Regions from separate parts of the Homo sapiens genome. Here all the other regions are linked to region 4. The links come from fine-mapping of genetic effects on gene expression. A gene starts in region 4. Each other region holds a variant in brackets. All regions are shown on one strand. Distances are from middle to middle. Region 1 overlaps GHET1 (gastric carcinoma proliferation enhancing transcript 1). Region 2 has its middle 120 kb from the start of ATP6V0E2. Region 3 has its middle 110 kb from the start of ATP6V0E2. Region 4 holds the start of ATP6V0E2 (ATPase H+ transporting V0 subunit e2).

Evidence for each region.
Region 1: its variant is fine-mapped to the expression of ATP6V0E2 in left ventricle (GTEx, PIP 0.96).
Region 2: its variant is fine-mapped to the expression of ATP6V0E2 in prostate (GTEx, PIP 0.94).
Region 3: its variant is fine-mapped to the expression of ATP6V0E2 in nasal epithelium (TOPMed, PIP above 0.99).

The regions. Positions count from the first base shown.
Region 1 is chr7:148,988,229-148,993,238 of GRCh38, forward strand. GHET1 (gastric carcinoma proliferation enhancing transcript 1) reads left to right here. Exons shown (of 1, transcript NR_130107.1): 1 at 1-1,201. Among named protein-coding and RNA genes, the nearest start is that of GHET1, 3.2 kb to the left of the region's middle. The variant CA/C (reference allele first, on the strand shown) is at 2,671.
Region 2 is chr7:149,991,251-149,996,260 of GRCh38, forward strand. It overlaps a transcript of ACTR3C not described here. Among named protein-coding and RNA genes, the nearest start is that of ATP6V0E2, 120 kb to the left of the region's middle. The variant C/T (reference allele first, on the strand shown) is at 2,174.
Region 3 is chr7:149,985,908-149,990,917 of GRCh38, forward strand. It overlaps a transcript of ACTR3C not described here. Among named protein-coding and RNA genes, the nearest start is that of ATP6V0E2, 110 kb to the left of the region's middle. The variant G/A (reference allele first, on the strand shown) is at 2,217.
Region 4 is chr7:149,870,913-149,875,763 of GRCh38, forward strand. It overlaps ATP6V0E2 (ATPase H+ transporting V0 subunit e2), which reads left to right and starts at 3,057. Exons shown (of 4, transcript NM_145230.4): 1 at 3,057-3,257; 2 at 4,686-4,733. The coding sequence starts at 3,154. ATP6V0E2-AS1 (ATP6V0E2 antisense RNA 1) reads right to left here and starts at 2,950. Exons shown (of 4, transcript NR_027040.1): 1 at 2,312-2,950; 2 at 730-884. RefSeq lists silencers at 2,584-2,793, 2,824-2,903, 3,314-3,493 and enhancers at 2,856-3,824, 3,154-3,293.

The DNA.
Region 1 (5,010 bases), 880 kb before region 4:
CAATGGAAAAGCAGAATCATTGACTATGTTTGACTCCTTCTGGTACCTAGCACAGTATCTGGGACACAGCAGGTGCTATGTAAATGTGTTGAGTGAATGAATGAATGAATGCCATTGAGGAGAATGAATAACCCCAGAAAACTAGACATGGGTAGATGTTGTCCTAATTTCAAAAGAGGGGAAAATGAGAGTGAGAGTTTCATAAATGACAATCTCTAAACGATGTTGCTCTCTAGCAAAATTCTAGAATGGATTATTTTAAGAACAAAGCAGGTAAACATTGGCAGCCAACTTGAAATTAATAAGAAAAAGGTGTGCGCCAGAATAGTTTTATTTCCTTTTGTTTTTCATTGTACAGCTTGATTTGACTAAGTTGTTTATACCTTTCACTCTGCCTTTGCATGCACTGGGGGTGATCTAGTCTACTATGTGGACTGGAAGTCCACCCAGTGGCCAGGCTCAGAGGCAGGGAAGGGGGGTTGGTGCCATTCTGGGAGAGGAGGTTTCTGGGGCTGTTTCTCAGCCAGATCCTGTCTCATCTGTTTCCAACAACCCCACAAATGAAGACACTGAAGCTGACTAATCAAATTGACTGATGCCCCAATAGGTGTCATGATATGCAGTGAGAATCCGGCAGGCATTAGAGATGAACAGCACGGGCTGCAGCCACATTATCTCAGCTTGAGTCCTAGTTTTCACCAGCTACTAGCTAGCTATCTCTGGTCAAGTCACTTACCTTGCTTGAGCCTCAGTTTCTCCATCTAGAAAATGGTCATAATCGAAGTATCTATCTTATAGGGTGTTGGGAAGATTAACTGAGAAGCCACATAGAGTTTACTGGCACATTAAAAAAAGAAACTATAAGAATGTTAGCTGTCCTTTTGCACGGCAAAAGGAACAGTAAGCAGAGTAAACAGACAACCCACAGAGTGGGAGAAAATCTTCCCAATCTATACATCCGACAAAGGACTAACATCCAGAATCTACGAGGAACTCAAATTAGCAAGAAAAAAACAATCCCATCAAAAACTGGCCTAAGGACATGAATAGACAATTCTCAAAAGAAGATATACAAATGGCCAACAAACATATGAAAAAGTGCTCAATATCACTAATGATCAGGGAAATGCAAATCAAAACCACAATGCAATACCACATTACTCCTGCAAGAATGGCCATAATAAAAAAAAAATCAAAAAAATAATAGATGTTGGTGTTGATATGGTGAAAAGCGAACACTTCTACACTGCTGGTGGGAATGTAAAGTAGTACAACCACTATGGAAAACAGTGTGGAGATTCCTTAAAGAACTAAAAGTAGATCTACCATTTGATCCAGCAATCCCACTACTGGATATCTACCCAGAGGGGAAAAAAAAAGTCATTATATGAAAAAGATGCTTGCACATGCATGTTTGTAGCAGCACAATTCGCAATTGCAAAAATATGGAACCAGCCCAAATGCCCATCAACCAACAAATGGATAGAGAAACTGTGGCATAGGGCTGGGCGCCGTGGCTCACGCCTGTAATCCCAGCACTTTGGGAGGCTGAGGCAGGCGGATCACGAGGTCAAGAGTTTGAGACCATCCTGGCCAACATGGTCAAAGCCTGTCTCTACTAAAAATACAAAAATTAGCCGAGTGTGGTGGCGTGCACCTGTAGTCTCAGCTACTTAAGAGGCTGAGGCAGGAGAATCGCTTGAACCTGGGAGGCGAAGGTTGCAGTGAGCCAAGATCACACCACTGTACTCCAGCCTGGCAACAGAGCAAGACTCTGTCTCAAAAAAAAAAAAAAAAAAAAAAAAAAAAAAAAAAAAAAAAGAAAGAAAAAAAAGAAAAAAGAAACTGTGGCATATATATACAATGGAATACTACTCAGCCATAAAAAGGAGTGAATTAATGGCATTTGCCGCAACCTGGATGAGATTGGAGACTATTATTCTAAGTGAAGTAACTCAGGAATGGAAAACCAAACATTGTATGTTCTCACTTATAGTGGGAAATAAGCTCTGAGGATGCCAAGGCATAAAAATGATACAATGGACTTTGGGACTTTGTGGGGGAAAGGGTAGGAAGGGGATGAGGATTAAAAGGCTAAAAATTGATTTCAGTGTATATTGCTCTGGTGATGGGTGCACACCGAAATCTCACAAATCACCACTAAAGAACATACTCATGGCCGGGCGCAGTAGCTCACGCCTGTAGTCTCAGCACTTTGGGAGGCCGAGGCAGGCGGATCACGAGGTCAGGAGATCGAGACCATCCTGGCTAACATGGCAAAACCCCGTCTCTACTAAAAATACAAAAAAAAAATTAGCCGGGCATGGCGGTGGGTGCCTGTAGTCCCAGCTTCCTCTCATGCTATGTAGATGTCACACCTGGTCCAACCCATCTTTGGGTCCCTGGTAAATCAGACACCGCCTCCTCAAGCCTGCCTATAAAATCCGGTGCACTCCACTGAGGTCTGGAGGTCCCATTTGGGTGCACCTCTCTCTCGAAAGAGACAAAGCTGTTCTCTGGGCCGGGTGGGGTGGCTCACACCTGTATTCCCAGTGCTTTGGGAGGCCGAGGTGTGCAGATCACATGAGGTCGGGAGTTTGAGACCAGCCGGACAAACATGGAGAAACCCCGCCTCTACTAAAAATACAAAATTAGCCGGGCATAGTGGCA[CA/C]TGCCTGTAGTCCCAGCTACTCGGGAGGCTGAGGCAGAAGAATGATGTGAACCTGGGAGGCGGAGCTTGCAGTGAGCCAACATCGCACCACTGCGCTCCAGCCTGGGCGACAGAGCAAGACTCTGTCTCAAAAAAAAAAAAAAAAAAAAAAAAAAAAAAAAGAACTTACTCATGTAACCAAATACCACCTGTTCCCCCAAAATCTATGGAAATAGAAGCTTTTAAAAAATTAAAGGCTGGGTACGGTGGCTCACGCCTGTAATCCCTGCACTTTGGGAGGCCAAGGCGGGCAGATCACCTAGGGCAGGAGTTCAAGACCAGCCTGGCCAACATGGCAAAACTGTCTCTACTAAAAATACTAAAAGTAGCTGTGTGTGATGGTGCATGCCTGTAATCCCAGCTACTCGGGAGGCTGAGGTAGGAGAATTGCTTGAACCCGGGAGGCAGAGGATGCAGTGAGCCAACATCACGCCACTGCACTCCAGCCTGAGAGACAGAGAGAGCCTCCATTTCAAAAAAAAATTTTTTAAAAAAGAATGTTAGCTCTCAGGGTTCAGAATCATTTTTCCTGGCTGACTGGACACAAGCTAACAAGAAACAGACATAAACTAACAAGGTAACAGACATAAATTATCAGAGCTGAAGTTTCCCTTTTCAGTTAAAAAACAACAAATCTGACCAAGTACCAGATAAGAGAATCCCACACAGTAAAAATGCAAATACTTGTGTAGTTTCACAGAAGGCTGTCATTGTCCCTGAAGTCTGTTCTCACTGGGTGGAACCCAGGGCCCAGGGGTCAGTTTGGGGTCCCATATTTTAAAAAAGACGTCAACAAAGAAGAACTGCCCAGGGCAAGGTGAGCAAGATGGTGACACACACTTCCTCCAGGTGAGTGATTCTTGACTTTGCAAAAATGCTTTCAACTAACAGTTTGGTGGTTCCTCAAAAAGTTAAATACAGAACTACCATATGACCCCAAATTTCCACTCCTAAGTATATACCCCAAGGGGCAGAAAACATGTCCACACACAAGTCTGAGCACAAATGTTCACAGCAGCACTATTCACAATAGCCAAAATGTGGAAACAACCCAAGTGTCCGCTGAAGCAAGAATGGATAAACGACGGGGGTACGCGTGTATAATGGAATGCTATCCATCCATTAAAAGGAAGGACGAGGCCGGGTGCGGTGGCTCACGCCTGTAATCCCAGCACTTTGGGAGGCCAAGGCAGGTGAATCACGAGGTCAGGAGATTGAGACCATCCTGGCTAAGACAGTGAAACCCTGTCTCTACTAAAAATACAAAAAATTAGCCAGGTGTGGTGGCGGGCACCGGTAGTCCCAGCTACTCGGGAGGCTGAGGCAGGAGAATGGCGTGAACCCAGGAGGCAGAGCTTGCAGTGAGCCGAGATCGCGCCACTGCACTCCAGCACTCCAGCCTGGGTAACAGAGCAAAACTCTGTCTCAAAAGAAAAAAAAAAAAAAAGGGAAGGATGTTCTGACACATCCTACATGGGTGAGCCTTGAAAACATTATTCTAAGTGAAAGAAGCCAGACATAAAAGGTCGCATATTGTAGGATTCCATTTATATGAAATGTTCAGAATAGGCAAATCCATAGAGACAGAATGAAGATTGGTGACTGCCAGGCGCTGGAGGGCATGACTGTTTAATGGCTACAGGATTTCCTTTGGGGCTATTAATGTTTTGGAACTAGTTTTGTACAACAGCGAGAATGTACTAAACGCCCCTGAACTGTACCCTTAAAAATGGTTAATTTTATGTTATGTGAATTCCACCCCAGTTTTTTGTTTTTGTTTCTTTGTTTTTGAGACGGAGTCTCGCCCTGTCGCCCAGGCTGGAGTGCAGTGGCGCGATCTCAGCTCACTGCAACCTCTGCCTCCTGGGTTCAAGTGATTCTCCTGCCTCAGCCTCCCGAGTAGCTGGGACTACAGGCATATGCCACTATGCCCAGCTAATTTTTTGTATTTTTAGTAGAGATGGGGTTTCACCATGTTGGTTAGGCTGGTCTCGAACTCCTGACCTCAAATGATCCATTTGCCTCAGCCTCCCAAAGTGCTGGGATTACAGGCATGAGCCACCATGCCTGGCCCCCACCCCAGTTCTTTAAAATGCTTTCAACTAATAGTATCCCATTTGATCTGGTCCTCTTGACGGTCTTGTGAAGTGAGTAGGACTGGTGATATTTTTTCTTGTTTTCCGTTTGAGAAAAATGAGGCTGGGAGGTTTGCCCAGTTAGTAAGCTAAGTGATGGCAGATGGGGTCTCAAGGAGTCTCTGATTCCAGGACCAGTGTGGTCTCCGCCATTCCCCTCTGCAT
Region 2 (5,010 bases), 120 kb after region 4:
CTCCCACTGTGTCCCTCCCAGGACACTTGGGAATTATGGGAGCTACAATTCAGATGAGATTTGGGTGGGCACACAGCTAAACCATATCACCTGACTACTGACCTTTTTTAAAACTGTGAGTTCAAAGGACCTCAAACTGGGCTGTGGTGGGTGCCTGCTGGTGGGTGATGAGGAAAGGCTGGTCGTTATTTGCAGCCAAGGCTCTGGTCACACAGAATCAGACACAGGCTCAGCAGTGAGCAGCCTTGGCAGGCCTGGAATCCCAGGCTAGTTGTGCCTGTGATTGGTTTTGTTATCAGCACACTTTTCATTTTGGATTCTTTTGGCCATCCCTCTCCTCATTAATGATGTCATCAAAGAAGGAACAGAGCATCACCTCAGGCCCGGTCTCTCCCACTTGCCTTCTTTGACACAAATACTTCTGACATCTTAGATTACGTGTCAGAGGGAACAAGGGTGGAGTCAAATTCGATCTTATGTTTTTTTGGTTTTGTTTTTTAGACAGAGTCTCACTCTATCACCCAGGCTGGAGTGCAGTGGTGCAATCATGGCTCAGTGCAGCCTTGACCTCCTGAGCTTAAGCGTTCTCCCACCTCAGCCTCTGGAGTAGCTGGGACCGCAGGCGTGTGCCACCAGTCCCAGCCTCAAACCTAATCTTACATTGAATGTTTGTTATGTAAGCACACACACAGAGGTGTGCCACCACTCCCAGCCTCAAACCTAATCTTACACTGAGTGTTTGTTATGTAAGCACACACACAGAGGTGTGCTACCACTCCCAGCCTCAAACCTAATCTTACATTGAGTGTTTGTTATGTAAGCACACACACAGAGGTGTGCCACCACTCCCAGCCTCAAACCTAATCTTACATTGGCTGTTTGTTATGCAAAGGTTAAGAGCTGCAATGTGTACAGGCAGATGCCTGCACAGCACAGGTCCAGAGCCGAAGGGTCCCTGAGAAAATACCACGTGTCCCATGTCCATGCCACCAAATAAATACACGGTAGCAGACTGTTTTGATATGTCATGGGATCTTTGAAATATGAATGCCATGCCTTGTTAATCATGAAAACACCTTCTCTCATCTTACTAAAGCACGTTCCACCATGGGCACTGGCCCGACTTTGACAGAGTGTTGAAGGAAGAGCCCATTAGTCCTCCCCAGCCATATATCATACATGTCCAATTTTCTAGCCACTGACAAATGATCTTCATAAAATATGACTAAGTTGTCCAGGAAGCAAAATTTCTCCAGGTCTAGCCAAGAACAATATGAGAAATGCACAACCCCTTCCCGTCCGGGGCAGCTGCATTTCCAAGTGATTATCCATCAGCTACAGGTGACGCATCTCCACGTGGAGGAGACTGCGATTCCAGAAAGGCAAGGCCACATGGGTTCCGTGAGGCCCCGTAGAAGTGAACGTGGCAAAGAAGGGACAAAGAAGGGTGGGCAACCGTATTGGTCAGGAATCTCCAGAGGGACAGATCTGTGGGATGTATGTGTATATGAAACGGAGCTTATTAGGGAGAATTGTCTCACATGCTCACGAGGTGAAGTCCCACCATAGGCCATCTGCAAGCTCGGGAAGAGAGAAGCCGGTAGTGGCTCAGTCCAAGTCCAAAAGCCTCAAAACCAGGGAAGCTGACAATGCAGCCTTCAGACTGTGGCCAAAGGCTGGAGAGCCCCCGGCAAACCACTAGCATAAGTGCCAGAGTCCAAAGGCGGAGGAACCGGGAGTCTGATGTCCAAGGGCAGGAGAAGCTGAAAGAAGCATCCAGCACAGGATAAAGCAAGAAGCCAGAAGAACCAGCGAGTAAGCTTATCTTACCTTCTTCTGCCTGCTTTGTTCTGCCTGCACTGGCAGCCGATGGGATGGTGCCCACCCACACTGAGGATGGGTCTTCCTCTCCCAGTCCACTGACTCAAACGTCAGTCTCCTCTGGCAGCACCTTCACCGACACACCCAGAAATCACACATTACCAGCTATCTAGGCATCCTTCAATCCAATCAAGTTGACAACTAACATTCACCATCACGGCAACAGAAGAAAAATTGGAGAGCGGGGAGCTGGCCAGTGGTGCCCTGCGAGGCCAAGCAGGGGTGCACTTGTATAATTTGCACACTTATAATTTGACATTTATAATTTCCCTCCTATACTCAATGAGGCCCT[C/T]GCTTAGAGGACCACCAACATCTAAATTCACTGCAGGATTTTCTCCCACAAGGAAAACCCAGATGTTTTAGGAGAACCTAATGCCATCAGTATGGCTGATGGAATGGAGTCGCTTCCTGCAATGAGCAGATGGTTTTAGGAACAGGACAGAAGGAAGAGGCTTGCTGAGTTGACTGCACTTCTGTCGGAATCAGCTTTCTCAGGAGATGCTCCCCTTGAGCTAAGCAGGGCAACCTTCCCCTTTGCAATCCCCACCCACAGACCCCATTGGAGCAATAAGTATTGTGATCAGGGTACTCATTGGGGACAGTAATTAAATGTCTGTTTGGAGAACACAGGCTCCACAAGGCTAACCAGGCCAACCCTCTGACCCCACGGGGCTGGCCTCTGTGATTCAGAATGGGGATATTACCCCAGGCCCTCAGAGGACACCCTGTTCACTGCTCTCAAAATCCGATCGCATGTTGAGTGGAACATGACACTGATTAGTATTCCATAAAATCCTGTGGATGGCTTAAAGTGGCCTGATTTTAGAGAACTATACTGTGCATGATGCACATTAAGAGAGGAACAGCAATGATTAAAGCATCAGGAAAAAGGAGCTGGAAGCAAAGCTAAGGGAGCTAGGGTTGTCTGACATGAAATAGAGAAACAGGAGGTTTTATAGTTGTCCATTCAGTTATCCTCTTGTGATTTTTTTGATCAATATGAAAGTGCACAGATATGAGACTTATCCTAAGGATGATACTAAAAAGTATGAAATGTTTTTCACACTCAAGCCGAGGAGACAACTTGAGAACAAGGAAAAACGCACATGGAAGAATGAAGTGGCCATCGAAGGGGCAAGTCTGTGGCTGAATGAGGGGTCCCCACAGAAACTAAAGAGGGGCTTGGCCGGGCACGGTGGCTCATGCCTGTAATCCCAGCACTTTGGGAGGCTGAGGCGGGCGGATCACCTGAGGTCAGGAGTTTGAGACCAGCATAGCCAACATGGTGAAACCCCATCTCTACAAAAATACAAAAATTAGCTGGGAGTATTGGTGTGTGCCTGTAATCCCAGCTACTCAGGAGGCTGAGGCGGGAGAATCGCTTGAACCCGGGAGGCAGAGGTTGCAGTGAGCCGAGACTGTGCCATTCATTGCACTCCAGCCTGGGCAACAAGAGTGGAACTCCATCTCAAAAGAAAAAAAAATGGAAGCTAAGGAGGGGCTTTATGGAGACAGTACAATGTGTAAAGGCCCATCACCCATAGAGCCTCAAAGTCCTGACAATCTGTGAGTGTGAGAATAGCTTCATCTTTGAGGTCCAAGTGCCTAGAAAATCTTGGAGGAGGCAGGAAATAGAAATCCAATGTTTACTGAATGAATGAGTGACGAAGGAAGAAGTGAGTAAGACAGTAGGAGCAAGAAGTGTTAACATTCTTTTTTTTTTTTTTTTTTTTGAGATGGAGTATGGAGTTTCGCTCTTGTTGCCCAGGCTGGAGTGCAATGGAGTGATCTCGGCTCACTGAAACCTCTGCCTCCCAGGTTCAAGTGATTCTCTCACCTCAGCCTCCCGAGTAGCTGGGATTACATGCACCCGCCACAGTGCCCAGCTAATTTTTGTATTTTTGGTAGAGATGGGGTTTCACCATGTTGACCAGGCTTGTCTACAACTCCTGACCTCAGGTGATCCGCCCGCCTCAGCCTCCCAGAGGGCTGGGATTACAGGCATGAGCCACTGCGCCCAGCCCAACACTCTTTATATAAAGCTCCATGCAATGTCCTAGTTACAGAATGTAAAGGATTTTTTTGCCTGCATATTTCTTGCCTGTGACAATATTAAACATTGCTGATCACCCCTTTTCTGATAAGATTTCCTCACTTTGCTCCTCCACTTTCCCTTCTAAATGTCCTGCTTTGTTTACTCTTCTCTTTCCATTGTGTGGAATTGTACTGATGTGTGCTGAAAGAAAGAAGGAAAGAAAGAAGAAAGGGAGAGGAGGACAGGGGAAGGGATGGAAGGAGAAAGAGAAAGAGTGAAATCACAGATATTTACTGAGCTCCAGGCTCTAGCTGGATACTCGCACAGTAAATAAGGCAGGTCTGTTCTCTTCGAGGTCTTTCCAGACTGCAGAGAAAGCTGCACAGACAATTTTAATACTGCGTTGTTTGTTGTGGTAGAATTAAGCACAGGATGAGGCTGGAGTGCACAGGATGAACAACTGATCTGAACTGGAAATTACAGAGGAAGCTTTCCAGAACACCACATGGCATTCAGGTTGGTGAGTGTCCAACTGGTCAGTTAGATACAAAGACCTGGAGACAAGAGGCGGACCTCTGGAGGGGTGGAAAGGCCGAAGAGGTAAACACAGGACCAACCACAGCTCCGTGAGGGGCACCGTTGGCAGGACCAGCAGCACGCTGCACGGTCACGGGGAGGTGAGCCTCGTTTGGGGTCTTGACGAGGAAGGGAAGGCTTCACAGCAGAGGTGGTTCGAGGCCTGTCTTAAAGGCCCAGCAGGCTTTTTGTTGATCAGCAAGTGCAGACAGAAGGGAAAGTCCATTTTAGAGAAAGCAGATCATCACCAGCAGGTCACACCTGTGCGGTATGTGCAGTCTGTGTGGGAAATCTCCTGGATGGATGCGTGGGTTAACTGCTGGCGTGGGGAGGGAGGAGGCTGGAAAGGCATGTTGGGACCAGACAGAGAAAGATCACAAACCATTCTAGGGGACGTGGGGAGCATCTGCCAGCAGTGCGGAAGCCCTCGGAAGGCCAGAGCAGATGGTCTTGCCCCGAGTGTGGCTCCATGGAAAGGGACGGAGTAAAGGAGGGGAGGGAGGAGAGGAAGGGGTAGG
Region 3 (5,010 bases), 120 kb after region 4:
ATGCACCCTCCTCTCCATCCCCCATCCTTTCCTAACTATCCTTTATCCTAAAACTGCTCATTCTAAGCCTTCAGCCCACATTAACCTCTTGCTTTCTCTTGTATTTTCTCTTCTATCCAGACACTGATCCCCAGACCCTGGAAGGTTTTCTGACTTTGAATAAAATAACAACTTCTAGATCTTGTCCTGGGCCATGGTCTGTCTGCTCTGTGACCTCCAGATGATGGAGAACTCCCGACCCATTTCCTCTTGGTGGGATGAGGTTTGCAAACTTCCTAGGAAATCACTACACATCAGTTGGGGCTGGCTGTTCCTGTGGAAAACCCACTCAACATTGCCAAAGCCTCCATCCCCTTTCTCGCTCATCCCATAAAGAATGGAAGTTTGTGGTCTCCCTTCTGCTCTACTGTTTGTACCTTATGATAAGGGGTCTGATGTGTCTGTGTGTTTCTCTCTGATTTCTGTCCTTCTTGTCTATTTTAAAACTCTGGCTGTTATTGTGTATTCACCGCGAGGTAAGTACCAGATTCCAGGGGAAATCAAGATTCTTCCCTGACTACCCAAGCAGAGTGATGCTTCTTTTTGATTCAGTCATAGTGTTTTCTGTTTCGTGTAACACAACTCCTTAGTAAAGGGTAAGCACCATGTTTCCTACCTAGTACAAGACTGATCAGAGGGTAGGCACTAATAGCACAAACACAATTTTTAGTTGGATGGAATTGAACAAACTCATTGCATTGAATGTTTCTGCATTTAACATCATTTGGAGAACACCAGGATGCAAATCTGGCCCATTTTCTCGCACAAAACTCCCCACCCATTGGTAGCCTGAAAGCCACAGTTGACAAATGTTAGGAAGCACCAGCAAAAACCAGTTTCCACCCCTCTTACCTTGACTTGTGTGACTGCCCACACTTCTATCCAGAGCCAAATGAAAGCTTCCAGTCAATGAAAAAATCTAGCAACCAATATTTAGGTAAGGTACTAAGAGCTATTTTGCATTCTGTTGCTCCCCCACCCTGCACCCCAATTAGGGTTCCCTGCATGGGCCCCGCAGGTATCTGAGGCTACTGCCTTGAAGCCCCCGCCCCACCCACTAAAGACACTGAGTACTGGAGGGTCCCCTCTCCTTGTTCTACAATCATAACACGCCCACACAGGGGCCTGCTTCTTCAGGGGTTTAGTGCCCTCCACTGGGGGACAAAGGGTAATCAATGGACTATTATGCAACTCACAAAATTCTTACTGTCTTTCCCCTTCTCAGGGAGAATTATGTCCTACCAGAGGAAAAAAAAATGCACACATCATCAATAAAATCTTTGTGAGCAGCTTTTTAAAAAACTATTATTATTTTTAAAGATTAGAAAATTAACAGCGGCCAGGCGCTGTGGCTCACGCCTGTAATCCCAGCATTTTGGGAGGCTGAGGCGGGTGGATCACTTGAGGTCAGGAGTTCCAGACCAGCCTGGCCAACATGGTGAAACCCTATCTCTACTAAAAATACAAAAATTAGCTGGGCATGGTGGTGGGTGCCCCATAATCCCAGCTACTCAGGAGGCTGAGACAGGAAAATCACTTGAACCTGGGAGGCAGAGGTTGCAATGAACTGAGATTGTGCCACAGCAGTCCAGCCTGGGCGACAGAGCAAGACTGTCTCAAAAAAGAAAAAATAAAAAATAAAAAAAGAAAAGAAAAGTAACAGCATACTAGAGTATAATTTTCATATGCTCCTCATTAAAATTTTGAAAATTGTTAGTTTTCATATTTTCTCCATATCTATTTTAAAAATTATTTCAATTGCATACAGGTACCAAAACATCATGCCTCGAAATCATTCAGGATGCATCTTTTTAAAAAATCTCAGTGAGCAACGCTAAAGAAGAGAGACCACAAGTTCTAGACGTTTTCCTGTATAATTAAGAAGAATCTGTTCAACAAACCCCCATGACATAAGCTTATCTATATAACAAACCTGCACATGTGCCCCTGAACCTAAAATAAAAGCTTTTTTAAAAAAGAAAAAGAACATTTTCACACTTAAAAACTGAATACAATTTTCTAATCTCATGTAATAACTTCCCCAATTACTCTAAAATGACTGGTATAGCTGGTTTGTATAGGTAAGGATTTAGCCAAGGCCCAGGAATTGCCCTTGGTTGGTGGTAACGTATATTTCAACTTAGAACGTGTCTGCCCCAGTGGCTCCCCAGCCCACC[G/A]CACATTGCTGGCTTGCTGGAAGGAATGGGCGAGTTGTTGCCTCCACGTTTCCACCTTCTGGATTTGTCTGGCTGTTTCCTCCTGGTGTGCATTAGCTGGACGCTCTGCAGCCTGTATTAGTTACGCACTGAAAGTTAGACCTAAGAGCTTGATTAAGTTCAGCTCACACATTTCTGGCATTACCTCACAGGTGATGCTAAGCACCGCATGGGGCATGGAAGGATATCTGCTTGTCCCAGTGTTAGGGATGCAGGAATTGATAAGGCGGAGAGCATCGGTGTTCTCCAGGATAAAGTCACATTTCTCCCCTTGCAACCAGCAGATGATCCCTGGAGTGATACTTTAGCACCATGTAAATTCCCTGAGATGACTGTGTATCCATTCATGACATTTGCCTACATCAATTGGTTTACTAAAGATTTCTGCATTTTACAAGCAAGGAAAGAAGGCTCAGAGATGACCGTTGGGCCACTTAGCAAATTGGTGGCTGAGAGGCTGGCCTGCCAGAGGTGGGATACTTGCTCACCTCTTGCCCAGTCCCTAACCCACAGAAGTCTCATGATGAGAGAACCCTCAGCACCCTGAGAGAGTTAATGCATCATCCTTTGGCCCCATGAATCTGCCCAGAAGCCAGCTGAGAAAAGAAGGTAGAGAACAGGGCTGAGGGACAAGGTGCCCCTTTATATATTTGGGTGAACACATTTTTAAATTTTCCTTTCATTGTCCAGTCCCCATGAATTATTTATTTGTTATTAAATTCAACTGAATGAGATTTCAAAGCAACGAAAATTGAAGTTCAAATGAAACCAAATTACCACTCTGAGCTCCAGGTGGCCCTGACAGCCCAGTTTTGTGAAGGGCCCCTGAGGCTGTTCACTGAGTCTGAGATGTCACCAGGCATGGAGGGTCTCTGATCAGCATCCAGAGCTCCAGAGTAGGGAGCAACCCCTCACCACCACTTCTGGGCCCCAGGCAAGGCAGAGACCAAAAGAACCCTGGTAAGGTTCCCCAACCTCCATGTTCATTTAAAAAAAATGTTTAAAACTGACAAATAATAATTGCATATATTCATGGGGTCCATCATGATGTTTTGATATACATATACACATATGGAATGCTTATATCAAGATAGTTAACATATATATCACCTCACAGACTTATGTTTGTGGGTGTGTGGTACAAATATTTAAAATCTACTCTCTTAGCAATTTTTGAAACATACTTTACATTATTAAATATAGTCACCATGTTGTGCAATTGATCTCAAAAACTTATGCCTCCTGTCCAATGAAATTTTATATCCTTGTACCAACATCTCCCCAACCCACCCCCAACCATCCCTGAGCTAGTCTCTGCCTCTGTAATTTTGACTTTTTAAGATTCTACACAAGTGACATAATGTGGTATTTGTCTTTCTGTGCCTGGTTTATTTCATTTAACACAATGTCCTCCAGGTTCATTCATGTTGTCACAATTGACAGACTCTCCTGCTTTTTTAAGGCTGCATAGTATTCCATTGTGTGCATACACCACACGTTTCTTATCCATTCATCTGTGGATGAGCACAGGGAATGTTTCCATATCCTGGCCATCCAGAACAGTGCTGCAGTGAGCATGGGAGTGCAGATGTCTCTTTGACAAGCTGATTTCAGTTCCTTTGGTTCTAAACCCAGAAGTGGGATTGCTGGATCATCCAGTAATTCTATTTTGGATTTTTTTTAAGGAACCTCCACACTATTTTCCATATGGCTGTAAAACTCACATTCCCTCTAACACTGTGTGAGGGTTCCCTTCTCTCCACATCCTCGCCAACACTTGTTATGGTCCACATTCACTTTTCAAGGTGAAATCCATTCTCTGCACTCCCCTGCTTGAAAGCACTCGGCGTCAGTGCGTTGCTCCTTCCCTCACTTCCGGAGGCCCCTGATCTGAACCTTCATCCATCCCTCCCCACACGGGTCTCAATTTTTCCTCCAGCCTTTCAGCCTCTTTTCTCTCCAGGGACTTTGCACCTGCTCTCACCTGTGCCTGGGTTGTCAGTGAGCTCCATTGCACCCTTCATTCCCAGCCCAGCTGCTGCCTTCTCAGGAGAGACACCTTCCCAGACCTCCTTCACCCACGTGCACCCCCACCCATCAGCCCCTTTCCCATTTCCTACAAAGTCAGGAGCATTCACATATCACCTGTTGCTCCTCTACCCACTGCCTCTTACCTCCACAAGAACACAGCAGCAGCATGAGTGGCCACTGAATCTCCAGCACGCAGCCCAGTGCAGGGACAGAGCAGTGGGTCCTGTGTTTGCTCAGCCTTTTCACCAGAATGTCAATCACATCTGCTCTGCTCACCCCACCACACTCCATGTCTACCATCACATTCTATAAACACGCACCAAGGATATAACGCCTGGCCTAGCGGTTGGAGATGCAGAGACCAGACCTAGCCTTTCTGTTCCTCCTCTTAAGAAACTGAGCCCCTCATGGAGAAGTGAGGCAGACACATGAACATAAGTTTTGCAACAGAAGCACTTTTCACCAGGTAATGCTATGGGAGCAAAGAAGGAAGTAACGGAGCCTGGGGGAACTCAAGATGTTTTCTGAATGAACTTTTATCTCTGAGTAAGAAACAAGGGCGCATAGGCAGAGTCTGCCACCCCTTTCTCTCCTCTCCATTGGGCCTGTGGAGATGGAGTGGGCAGGCACATAATCTGTGGGAGCACAGTGTATTCAGGGGAGTTATACAGTTCCATAGGTCACAGCTGGGCCCAGGGTACACATGAGGGACAAGCCAAAAGTG
Region 4 (4,851 bases):
TCCGACACGTGCCCCGTCTGCAGAGAGCATTAGGATGCATCTGTGGCTCTGAGGTGTGATTTCCTAGGGCCTTCAAGTGTCCTGGGGCTCCTGTTCATTTGCACTGGGGGACACTCAGGGAAGTTTTAAAGAGCCTCTTTCAGTGGCTCCTTCTCCTTCTACCCTTTCTAGGAATTCATCAGCCCCATGAAAAGATGAACGATAGAGATGTCACCAACATCAGGACCCCACTCCCTGGGAGATGTCATGGAAACTTGTCAATCACACCCAAAGCACTCACTGAGGAGCCATGGCAGAGCAGTCGGTGGCGCCAATACCAACCAGAAGCCGCCAGGGCAGAGGGGAACCGTGAAGCCAGTGGAATGCACAGCTCCACCTCAGGGGACCGGGGTAGGCGGGGCTGTGTCTGGTAACATGCCCTTTGCCTCACATTAGTGCCTCTGAAAATAGTGTCCTCAGCCTGGGCACAAACCCTAGGGGTGAGCTGGGAGTGTGGAGGAGACGCTGGATTAGGGAGAAGTCTCGGCCATGTGTTCTGGCTCTTTTACTGATGAGCTGTGTGGGCCTAGGCAAGTTACTTCACTTCTCTGGGCCTCAGTTTTATCACCTGTAAAGTGATAGGATTGCCTTAGCCTCTAAGATCCCTTTCAGCTAAAAACAAAGTTCTAGAAAATAAATATGTGGTACTGTGGAACTCTGGGGAGCTGTTTGATCAGGTGAACAGTTTACCCATGGAAATGGGGCTCCAGCACAAAGCTGCTCACATCTTCCAGTCACGCTCCAGGGAACAGCCAGGGCTTGTGGGCCCAGATGAGGCTTTAGTGGTTGGAGAAGGAGCCAGTTCCTGGTTTTAATCCCTTCATGGACCTCAGACCATCACAAAGCTGCCAAACAAATGACACAGGCAATCACATGCAAATTAGGACAGAAATGAAACATCAAAGACATTAAAGGAAAAGAGTAAGAGCTGCAGGCTGCTAATATGAGTGGCTGCTCAGACTCAGCAATGTTTTTGGTTCTGGCCAAAGCCAAGACAAAGGAGCAGAGGCAAAGAAGGAAATACATTTCACTTTACAGCTGTCATTTTCTACAGAGGATTTTTTTTTTTCCAGAACAAAATTCAAAAAGTCCGTCTTTTTTGAGCTATAGAACTTTCGTGGTGATTTTTTTTTTTTTTTTTTTTTTGAGACGGAGTCTCACTCTGTCCCCCAGGCTGGAGTGCAGGGGCACAATCTCGGCTCACTGCAAGTGCAAGCTCTGCCTCCCGGGTTCACGCCATTCTCCTTTCAGCCTCCAAAGTAGCTAGGACTACAGGTGCCCGCCACCATGCCCAGCTAATTTTTTTATATTTTTAGTAGAGACGGGGTTTCACCGTGTTAGCCAGGATGGTCTCGATCTCCTGACCTCGTGATCCGCCCGCCTCTGCCTCCCATAGTGCTGGGATTACAGGTGTGAGCCACTGCGCTCAGCCCTCGTGGTGATTTTTTGAAGGCCTGTATGGACATACTCTTAACTCTATCTCCTGGATGCCAAGTGCACCCTTATCCTAGGCCAGTGTTCTCAACAATGTACACACTCTGGATGAGAAAAATAACCATTGTTTACAATCCAGCTAAAATCTCACCTCCTCCAGGGAGTCTTCCTGGATTTCTCCACCCTCTGAATTCTCATAATGGGCATTTGGCTACTTTGATCACAGGGCTCTTAGAACTGCGCTGTCCAGCATTATGATTTTACCAGAATATATCACTCCTCAACTACTTTAGAAACCCCTCGAAGGCTAGGATGGTATTTTATACCTAACAGTTTGGTGTCATCCCACGCCCACCTCCAACTTACATGAATGTTGGAAGGATGGATAGGGAGGTTTCAACTAGAGAACGGAGAAGGGCGGATGTAACTGGTTCTTGATTTCAGAAAACAGCCAGGAGCACACATGGCTGACGGGGTCAGTGCAAGGACAGGCACATTTCCCTTCTGCATCACGTGGGGACTGCGCCTCCCTATGTCATGAAGCCAGGGAATATGTGTGGCCGGCCGCTTGGGGTAGCACTTGTTGCTAGAGATACCGCCTGGAGGCCACTGATCTGTAAAAGGGATCTCTACAGAAGATAGGGATTTTTGATCGCCAGAGAAGAAGGGATATGTGAGATCCAAACGCCGAAGGAGGAAAGCAGGCTCCGTGGTCTCTTCCAGCCCTGATGGAAGAAACTACCGAGCCTTATTATACTAGGTGCTTTCCACATGCCTATTCATTTAATCCTCCAGCAACCTTGTAAGAAGGGCCATCCCATTTTATATTTAAACAAACCTTAACTACTGACGCAAGGAGTCAAGGATCTAATCCCAAAGCCTCTGCCTGGTTCGCTGCAGATGGATGTCCGCGAGGACGCCAGCCCTCCGCCTCCCGCCGGGTCCCTGAACGCCGGCCCGGCCGGTCCAACCTCATTCCGCTTCCCGCCATCGAAACGCGAAGCCCCCGCCTTCCCCCAAACGTCTCAGCGCCGCTGGGGCCTTTCTGGCTGCGCCGCCTCCGACCCCAGGCCCCGGTCCGCGCCCGCCGCTCGCTAGTCCTGGGAGTGAGGAGAACGCGTGCTGAGGACCCGGCCAGAGGGACAGCGGGGACCGCCCTCCCGCTGCGTCTCTGAAAGCGAGGCCGTTCCTCCCGCGTCCGACCCCCGCGGGGCCGTCAGGTTCGGGGCGGCCCAGGCTGCGGGTCCGCAGGGCGCTTCGGGCCGAGCCGGCGCGGCGCGTGAAGGGCAGGGGACGCCCCGAAAGACCGCTGGGGTGGGACCCCAAGCTCCAGGGGTCTTTGGAAATAAGAATGCGGCGTGACGTTGGCTGTGCGGGCGCGGGGCTGACGCGGACCCTATAACCCATCGCCGAAACCGGGCGGCCGCGCCCCTATTCCTCGGCATTTCTCTCTGTCCGCGGCCCTGCTCAGCCAATCAGCGAGTGGGCTCCTAGGCAGGTCCTGAGTGACAGCGCGGCGGGCTGGATCAGGAGATGCGCGTGCGCGGCCCGGCCCGGCTGATCGCTTCGGGTGCTCGACTCCTGTTGCGCATGCTCAGCGCGCTGCCCGGCTGGGGACCCGCGCACCTGCAGCGCCCGCTGCTCGGCCCTGCATCCTGCCTGGGCATCCTGCGCCCGGCCATGACGGCGCACTCATTCGCCCTCCCGGTCATCATCTTCACCACGTTCTGGGGCCTCGTCGGCATCGCCGGGCCCTGGTTCGTGCCGAAGGGACCCAACCGCGGGTAAGGAAAGCGCGCAGGCCCTGCAGACCTCTCCACCCCGGCCCCCTGGCCCGGCTCGCCCCTCCGCCCCGGGGCGGCGGCTTCCTGCTCTGCAGCGAGCGTCCGCAGGAGGGACGCCAGGACCCCGGACGCCACCTCTGAGGTCTCTCTGCACCTGGGTCTCTGACAGCCGGGAACAGGCAGGAGGTGGGGCGAGAGGGCATATCCAGAAGGTAAAGAGGAGAGTGACATTGGAGATGTCTGTCACCCCTCCTGCAGCCAGTAAAGGGCACAAGTGGGCACTGACGCAGTTTCTCCACTCCTTGCTAGCTGTGTGACCTAGAGCCAATATCAAGTCTCAGTTTCTTCATGGGTAAAATGGAGATAATGTCGACTCCTGCCTTAAAAGGCTGCTGTGAGGATGACCTGCGGTAACGCATTTAAAACACCTACCAGTGCGTGACACTTTGTAGGTATGGGATAAGTTTAGCTGGCGTTATTTTTCGAAGGTCCTCTAGCAGATTGCTGCGCCATTCACCAGTTTCTGCTTCATATTATCTTCAGTTACAAAGCACCCTTCCCTTGACTGCATGTTCCCAGGGGCTGGAGTTTGTCCAGTTCACCATTGTCTACTCAGTGCCCAGCCAGGACTGGCACAACCTGCTTAGTAATGTTGAAAAAGGGATCGCGTGCTCCTGTGTCCAGCACCAGCTTGCAGTGCTTTAGATCAAAGATCAAGGGCCTCGTTTGGATTAGAGTTAGCTTTGCCCAAAGGCCGTTTGGACATGTGAGTGCTGCCTTTGTTCTTAAAGACAGGCAGGGTTTGGGATCCCACAGCTTCACTTTGTAAACCATTTTCGTGTCTTGCGTCTCCTGCTATTCTTGGTGAGTTCTTGCTTCAGTTTGACTGAAATTTCTTTTGCTGCACTTGAAGCATCTGTCTCTGGTCTTCTCTGAGTACACGCAAAGTGGCTAGTCCCTGTTCTCTTTGTAACAACTCACTGGGCCTCAGAACTGGCTCACAGTCTGCCTGCTTCTTGCCCTGTCTTCTAGCCTATTGTTTTCCTTCCCCTTGCTCCATGAATTTTGAATTCTACAGACCACTCCCTGTTGGGTTGCCACAAATGCAGCTCTGTGCAGTGCCTTTCCACAACACGTCTGCATTAAGATGGAGCAATATTGGGTGGTAGAGAAGGGAAATGAAGGGAAGGATTCTTAAGGCAACTTGGATGTGGTCAAGGTTGGCCTCTCTGTGAGGTGACACTTTCAGTTTTTATTTTCTGCCTTGCTATTCTTACCCTGAGTAGAACTCAGCCTCCTGTGTCCAGGAGGCATCAGGAAGGCCAATGGAAAAGAGCTCACACCAGGAGCTCTTCTTGCTCTGGTCCTGGCCAGGCCTTGTGAGGTGCTGGCTGCATTTGTTCTGACCCGTGTCCTCTTCTGCTGCAGAGTGATCATCACCATGCTGGTCGCCACCGCCGTCTGCTGTTACCTCTTGTAAGTACTACTCTCCCCAGCTCAAAGTCAGCCAGTTCCTTTGTCCTCCCTCCTTTCCTCCTCACCCTAGCCTGCTCTTCCTTCTGTCCTGGTAGTAAATGCCTCTTGAAAGGCTGAA